Linked DNA regions of Homo sapiens. The protein of the gene in region 1 purifies or fractionates together with the protein of each later gene. This does not show direct contact. Each region holds a gene or a part of one and is shown in the gene's direction. Other genes may lie near its edges.

Region 1 (3,822 bases):
ATATAACTTGAGAAAGTAATTTGACTTTATGTATCAGTTATTGTTGACATTTAAGCCAAGAAATTATGTTTGCATTGAGCAAGGTTTTTAAAATCATAATCTCTCATACACTTTTTTATCTTAACTTATATCTTGATTTTAAATGGATACTTATTAAAATGTTACCTGATAGTATCAAGTTAAGATTTTAGAAATTTTCTTGTCTTGTCTCTTCCCCAATGACTAGTAATGGAAAGTCGTGATCCTAGTACAAATGTGATATTATTGGAGGATACTGCTGCAGTCTTGGGAGTTATAATAGCAGCCACTTGCATGGGCCTTACTTCTATAACAGGTAAATATTCCTTAAATTACAGGTGATTTATTTGTCCTACTTAAATAATTCTCTAATATGTGGGAATTTTCTCTTATATCATTGAATAATATTAAACCAACAAATTGTTAAATGTTAATTCCTACTAATCATTGACTTATGTAAGACATTTGGTCAGCAGAAGTATTCAGGTTTATTTGAATTAAAAATGTCTCTAAATTAGAAATAAGGAAGGCTATTTGTAAAGGATTTCTGTAATGCTGTACGTCTTTCTAGCTGTGACTTAAAAAATTGTGCAATCACTCTGAACTTTTTATTTACCTATAAAAGTGTGGATAATATTTACCTTGGTAACCTCTTAGGTTTATTAAGAAAATATGAGAGTTTTAATAAACTCTAAAGTTCCAAATAAATATACATAGGTCCTCAAATAACATTGTTTTGTTCAACTTGATTTTGTTATAACATTGTTGCGAAAAATATCAATTCCTAACTGGAGCTACCATCTCTGTGGAGTTTGCTCATTCTCCTTTTATCTACATAGGTTTTCTTTGGGCACCCCAACTTCCTCCCACATCACAATGCCGTACATGGTCAGTGAATTGGGGTGTCTAAATAGTCCCAATCTGAGTGAGTGTGGGGGTGTGTGTAAGTGTGCCCTGCCATGGGATGGCATCCTGGCCAGGTCTGGTTCCTTCCTGTGTCCTGAACTGCTAGGATAGGCTCAAGTAGATGATAATCAGACAAATGCAGGACAATAACTGATGTATGAAAGCGCTCAGCAAGCCTACATATTTGTGGTTGTTTATTTTTGAATTATGTGGTGATAGGTGTTCCTTACAATTTTCACTTTGCAAACATTTATTCTTTGATTTAACTCACCACCCCTACTATTGCTGATACTCACTGATTCACCAAAAATTGGGTAAATAATTATTTTACATAGTTTTTATTAATTTTTAAAAATGTATATGTAGCCCACATTTATTTCAGTGTTCAATATTAGACATGTTTTGGGTCTTAGAAGTTGAGTGATGTTTTTGTGACCAGAAATATGCCATAGGAACTTAACTCTTTTTTTTTTTTTTTGAGACAGAGTTTTGCTCTTGTTGCCCAGGCTGGAATGCAATGGTGCCATGTCGGCTCACTGCAACCTCCACCTCCCAGGTTCAAGCAATTCTCCTGCCTCAGCCTCCCGAGTAGCTGGGATTACAGGCATGCGCCACCACGCCCGGCTAGTTTTGTATTTTCATTAGAGACGGGGTTTCTCCATATTGGTCAGGCTGATCTCAAACTCCCGACCTCGGGGGTGATCCTCCCACCTTGGCCTCCCAAAGTGCTGGGATTACAGGCATGAGCCACCACGCCCGGCCGGAACTTAACTCTTGTTTGTATCAGTTAGCTTATGGTAAAATTGGTTTTGTTATATGTTGTTCCCTATAAAGTCGCAGTTTCTAAGAACCTATTGACAACATGAATGAGGACTTAACCGTATATTGTGGCTCTTGTTCATTTGTCTTTTTCCACACTTAATGCCAATAATAACTACTGTTGCCTTCCTATTTCTTTAATTCTAAGTTGTTTGTGTCCTTATTTTGGTAGCTAATTAAGTGTTTTGAGGGCCAATAAAATACAAGTAAATGAAAAGACAATTCTATTTTATTTTTATTTTCGAAAACAACCATTTAGCATGAAAAGACTCAATTTATGAAGTTGGAATTCTCTTGGAAAGGAACTTCTTCCATACTTCTCTATTTGTCCTTACATATTTAAAATAATTTTAGGTGACGAGCTTCCACAGTTCTGCAGTGTTTCTTCAAATAGTCTGAAATATGAATACTTCTTTCTCATTCTGAGTGTGCATTTTAATACCAAACTAGCATTCTCTGATGTTTATTGTGATCCAAAATATTTGTAAAAATGTTGATTGTTTTTCTGGTTGACCATATAGTTTTAGACTGTTTTTGAACATAAATTACTAGCAAAATTTTAGGCTTAAGAAAAGTGTGACTTGATGCAGATGTCAACTTTGAATAATTTATTTTCTTTTACATAATAATAGAAACCAATCAAATCAAATTTACAAAAATATGTAATGTGTTTTACATGAATTAAATTTTTCTTAATTAGCTAATTTATTCAAATTAAATTAAATAACATGCCAAGAAATAAAAGTTTTCTTAAAAAAGGTATTTTCTTTCAGCTAATATTCCTGTAATTTCTTTAAGAGTACATGAATGTATATATTTAAATAAAAATAACTCTTCACATTTGGATTTCTAAAGAGCAGTATTTGATTTTGAGCTCTATAATTACAAAACTTCTAATGGATAATGTTTTACAAGCGGATCATTTTTAACACTTAGTATAGATTAACAAGTTTGCTTTTTAGTGTTACAGCTTAGCAAAATATATGTTTTATCAAGCATTAAGAAGAGTTAAATATATTGATGACATTTCATCTTTGGGATAAAAAGACTTGTAGTCATAAAAGCCATGTGTAAAATTTATTATAAAGATTTAAAACGTATTTATTGGTGTCTATTATATAAATATTACCTATACATTCATAGATGATAAATCAGCCTTTCTCATTGGTTCTGGGAGAGAAGCCCTGACAACCTAAGGCAAATATTAGAATCAGAATCACCTGAAGGGCTTGGGGAAACACAGAATGCTGAAACCCACATCCAGAATTTTTTATTCAGGGGCCTGAAATGAGGTCTGAGAATTTGCTTTTCTACCAAGTTTTCAAGTGATGGCTGCTGGTCCAGGAACCACACTTTGAGAAGCACCACCTTGAGGCACCTATGGCATGTAATGAATTAAGTTCTCTCCTTTTTATCTAGAATGATACTAGCTATATATCATCCTTGGTTGGATGAGAAGAGAGTCACCCATATTATTTTCTGTAGGGCTTAATTCTCTTACAGAACATTAGTAGGAAGAAGATACGGAAAAAGGTTTCTTTCAGCTTTTGATTCCACTGTTATTTTGTCTATCTGGTGTAGGAAAAGTGCTATGGATATATCTAAAAGAAATGGACTCTTCATTATGTCATTTTTTTGTATTGGTGTCTCTAATCTAAATGTGCTCAGAAACTTCACATATGTAATGACAGGTACAAGTAAGAGATCTTAATTATGTCACATAGTACTCTTATGAAAGCAAGTTGTAGCATCCTCATTTTGTGGTATATTAAAACTATTAGGAGTTGTTAAAGGAAGTAATTAAAGAAATTAGGAATAAATTTCAAGTGCCTTGATTTACTCGTTCTGGTTCTTTGCTCTCTATAAAGTTCACTGAAATAATATAAACTGTTAATTTACTGATTTTTTTATGTGCTTCATTTAGGCAATCCACTGTATGACAGCCTAGGTTCTTTGGGTGTGGGCACCTTATTAGGCATGGTCTCAGCATTCCTCATCTACACTAACACAGAAGCACTCTTAGGGCGGTCCATCCAGCCAGAACAAGTACAACGGCTCACTGAACTCCTGGAGAATGAC
Region 2 (3,822 bases), on another chromosome or scaffold:
TCTTGCTGTGTCCTCTTATGACCTCATTCTGTTTACTTCATATTTTTCCGAGGTTAAATTGACTGCCTTTTTTTGTGTGTGGTTAAATTTATTTAAGATAGAATCTTAATGTCAGTACTTTAAAAAAAAAGGCCGGGCGTGATGGCTCACACCTGTAATCCCAGCACTTTGGGAGGCCGAGGCGGGCAGATCATGAGGTCAGGAGTTCGAGACCAGCCTGAACAACATGGTGAAACCCCCGACTCTATTAAAAATACAAAAATTAGCCGGGCATGGTGGTGCGTGCCTGTAATCCCAGCTACTTGGGAGGCTGAGGCCAGAGAATCGCTTGAACCTGGGAGCTGGAGGTTGCAGTGAGCCAAGATTGGCCCACTGCACTCCAGCGTGGGTGACAGAGCGACACTCTGTCTCAAAAAAAAACCAAAACAAAACAAAAAAAAACAAACCAGAGCCAGGGTCTCACTCTGTTGCCCAGGCTGGAGTACAGTGGTATAGTCGTAGCTCACTGAAACCTCAAACTCTTGGGTTCAAGTGATCCTCCCACCTAAGCCTCTGAGCCTGAGTATCTTGGACTACTGGCGCATGCCACCACGCACAGCTCTATTTTTTTTGTAGAGATGGGGTCTCGTTATGTTACCTAGGCTGGTCTCAAACTGCTGGCCTCAAGCCATCTTCCCTCTCTGGCCTCCCCGAAGTGCTAGGATTACAGGCGTGAGGCACTGCACCTGGCCTAATGTCAGTATTATAAATAGAAAATACAGTAAAAATAAACAACAGAGAAAAAAAGCTAGTAGAATTCAGTTGCAGCCAAATACTGTTCCCTGACAACGATTCTCAACCTGAGATCTGTTCACTCTTTTAAAAAACGGAGAAGAATAAATGGTATAAAAGATCAAAGATATACTCACCCCAAATGCTGACTTCTCTTGGCCACGGTCAGGATAAAACAGCATTGAAAAGAGAATGGTTTTTCTTAACTGTGTAATTCCAGGTTTAACACTGGGATCCAGTGTCTCCTAAAACAGTGGTTCTCCCTCAGGGTGAGTTTGTCCCCCTGATGAGGACATGTGGCAATACCTAGGGACATTTTTTTTTTTTTTTTTTTTTGAGATGGAGTCTTGTTCTGTCACCCACGCTGGAGTGCAGTGGCGTGATCTTGGCTCACTGCAACCTCCACCTCCCGGCTTCAAGCGATTTTCCTGCCTCAGCCTCCCAAGTAGCTGGGATTACAGGCGCCCACCACCACACTGACTAATTTTTGTATTTTTAGTAGAGACGGTTTCACCATGTTAGCCAGGTTGGTCTCGAACTCCTGACCTCAGGTGATCCGCCTCGGCCTCCCAAAGTGCTGGGACTATAGGCGTGATCCATTGTGCCCAGCCCTCGGGACAGTTTTGATTGTCAAAACTTAGTTGGCACTGCTGGCATCTAGTTGGTAGAGGTCAGAGATGCAGTTAAATATCCCACCATGCATGGGACAGCCCCTGTCACAAAGAATGACCCGGCCCGATGTCTGGTGCAGAGGTTAAGAAGCCCTGGCCACAGATGGTCTCCATTACCGGTCATATCTGTCTCTTACTTTTCTGGTCTGGGTTTAACAATCCCAGGGGCGGGGACCGCCTTGCTCGGGAAGGAAGGTGCCATGGCCTGCACCGTGGCGGTGGAAGAGAGCATAGCACATCACTACAACAACCAGATCAGGACGCTGATGGAGGAGGACCCTGAAAAATACGAGGAACTTCTTCAGGTATTTATCCGTGCTCTAGAACGGGGCTGCTCAAGGAGGAAAATGGCAGATAGCAATTGGGTAAGAGGAAAACATGTTAGAGATTGTTAGGGGATGATGGGGGTTTAGAGGCTCAGGTCAGTGCCTCAGTTTAAAGGTGAGCAAACTGAGGAACAGAGAGGTGAACCCGTCTGCCCTGGCCATACAGCACAGACAGAGCTGGGACTAGAACCCTTGTCTCCTTTGTCTTTTTTCTTTTTATTTAGAGATGAGGTCTTGCTCCGTTGCCCAGGCCGGAGTACAGTGGCACAGTCATAGCTCACTGCATCTTCAAACTCTTGGGTTCAAGTGATCCTCCTGCCTCAGCCTCCCGAGTAGCTATGGGACTACATACATAGCCACCACTCACAGCTAATTTTTTTTTTTTTTTTTTTTTTAAGAGATGGGGTCTCACTATGTTTTCCAGGCTGGTCTTGAATTTCTGAGCTCCAGTAGTCCTCTCTCCTCAGCTTCCCAAAGTGCTAGAATTATAGGCATGAACCACCACATCCGGCCAGAACCCTTGTCTCTTGAGCCCTGTCCTGTTCACTTATTTTATTTTTAATTTTTAAAATTTTTTGTAGGCACAGTCTCTCTCTATGTTGTCCAGATTGGTCTTGAGCTCCTGGGCTCAAGTGATTCTTCTGCCTCGGCCTCCCAAAGTGCTGAGATTACAGGTGTGAGCCACACCACCTGGTGCTGTTCACTTTTTTTTTTTTTTTTTTTTTTTTTTTGAGATGGAGTCTCACTCTGTCCCCAAGGCTGGAGTGCAGTGGTCTCCGCCTGCATTGCAGCCTCCGCCTCCCGGGTTCCAGCGATTCTCCTGCCTCGGCGTCCCAGGTAGCTGGGATTACAGACATGCACCACCACGCCCAGCTAATTTTTGTATTTTTAGTAGAGACGGGGTTTCACCATGTTGGCCAGGCTGGTCTGGAACTCCTGACCTCAGGTGATCCTCCTGCCTTGGCCTCCTAAAGTGCTGGGATTGCAGGCGTGAGCCACCGCGCCCGGCCCACTTCTTTATCATTGGTAGATTCTGAGCAGATGCTGTGAGCAGGAACCCTTTAGATTGAATAAATGAATAGATATCCTGAGATAATTTTCCACAGCAAATAAGGGAACTGTTTAGTTTTTTAGAGTCTAAATCTGAGGTTGGCAAACTATGGCCTGTGGCCAGCCACCTGTTTCTTTAAATAAACTTTTATTGGAACACAAGCACGTCCATTTGTTTGCATGTCTCCGGCTGCTTTTCTGGTTACAGTGGCAGAGTTGGGTAGTTGCAACAAAGTATTTACTCTCTGGCCCTTTAGAGGAAAAGCTGGCCTCCCTGTCTTAGGCCATAATAAGAGGCTTTAGCCTCCAAAATGAAATGGAACAGCAGGAGAGTTGGAAGGCTAACTTGCTTTGGTGTCTTTTTATTTAACCAGCTGATAAAGAAATTTCGGGATGAAGAGCTTGAGCACCATGACATAGGCCTCGACCATGATGCAGAATTGGTAGGGCCCTACTGTTACCTGTTCTGCTTTGGGACTCCTTATTTGGGAGGCTGAAGGGGCAGGAGGTTTCTGTTGCCAGAAAAATACATTTTAAAGTGACAGCGAAAGGGAGAGAAAACCAATGACGTTGCTTTGACAAAAAGCAAGCAAACGCATTATTGCTCCAGATTGGGAATCTCCTTTCTTGCTTTATGCCTTCTCCTTTTCCCCAGAAGCTTTTTTTTTTTTTTCCCAGACACAGTCTCACTCTGTCTCCCATGCTGGAGTGCAGTGGTGCAGTCTTAGCTCACTGCAGCCTCCTCCTTCCAGGTTCAAGCAATTCTGCCTCAGCCTCCCAAGTAGCTGGGATGACAGGTGCATGCCACCATGCCTGGCTAATTTTTGTATTTTTTATTTTTAGTGGAGACCGAGTTTTCACTGTGTTGGCCAGGCTGGTCTCGAACTCCTGACCTCAGGTGAGCTGCCTGCCTTGGTCTCCCAGGAGCTTCATTTCCTTTCCTGTGAGAATCTGGATGACTCCAATGCTTTGGCAGTAGTAGCAGAGGCATTCCGACCTTTTGA

Evidence for each region.
Region 2: the proteins of SLC30A9 (region 1) and COQ7 purify together in Homo sapiens (affinity purification with mass spectrometry; one large-scale study listed by BioGRID and IntAct). This does not show direct contact.

The regions. Positions count from the first base shown.
Region 1 is NC_000004.12:42,066,859-42,070,680, forward strand, and holds part of SLC30A9 (proton-coupled zinc antiporter SLC30A9, mitochondrial), read left to right. Parts: intron 1-226; coding exon 227-334; intron 335-3,667; coding exon 3,668-3,822. UniProt on the Homo sapiens protein: Mitochondrial proton-coupled zinc ion antiporter mediating the export of zinc from the mitochondria and involved in zinc homeostasis, zinc mobilization as well as mitochondrial morphology and health.
Region 2 is NC_000016.10:19,074,114-19,077,935, forward strand, and holds part of COQ7 (NADPH-dependent 3-demethoxyubiquinone 3-hydroxylase, mitochondrial), read left to right. Parts: intron 1-1,607; coding exon 1,608-1,747; intron 1,748-3,192; coding exon 3,193-3,261; intron 3,262-3,822. UniProt on the Homo sapiens protein: Catalyzes the hydroxylation of the 5-methoxy-2-methyl-3-(all-trans-polyprenyl)benzoquinone at the C6 position and participates in the biosynthesis of ubiquinone.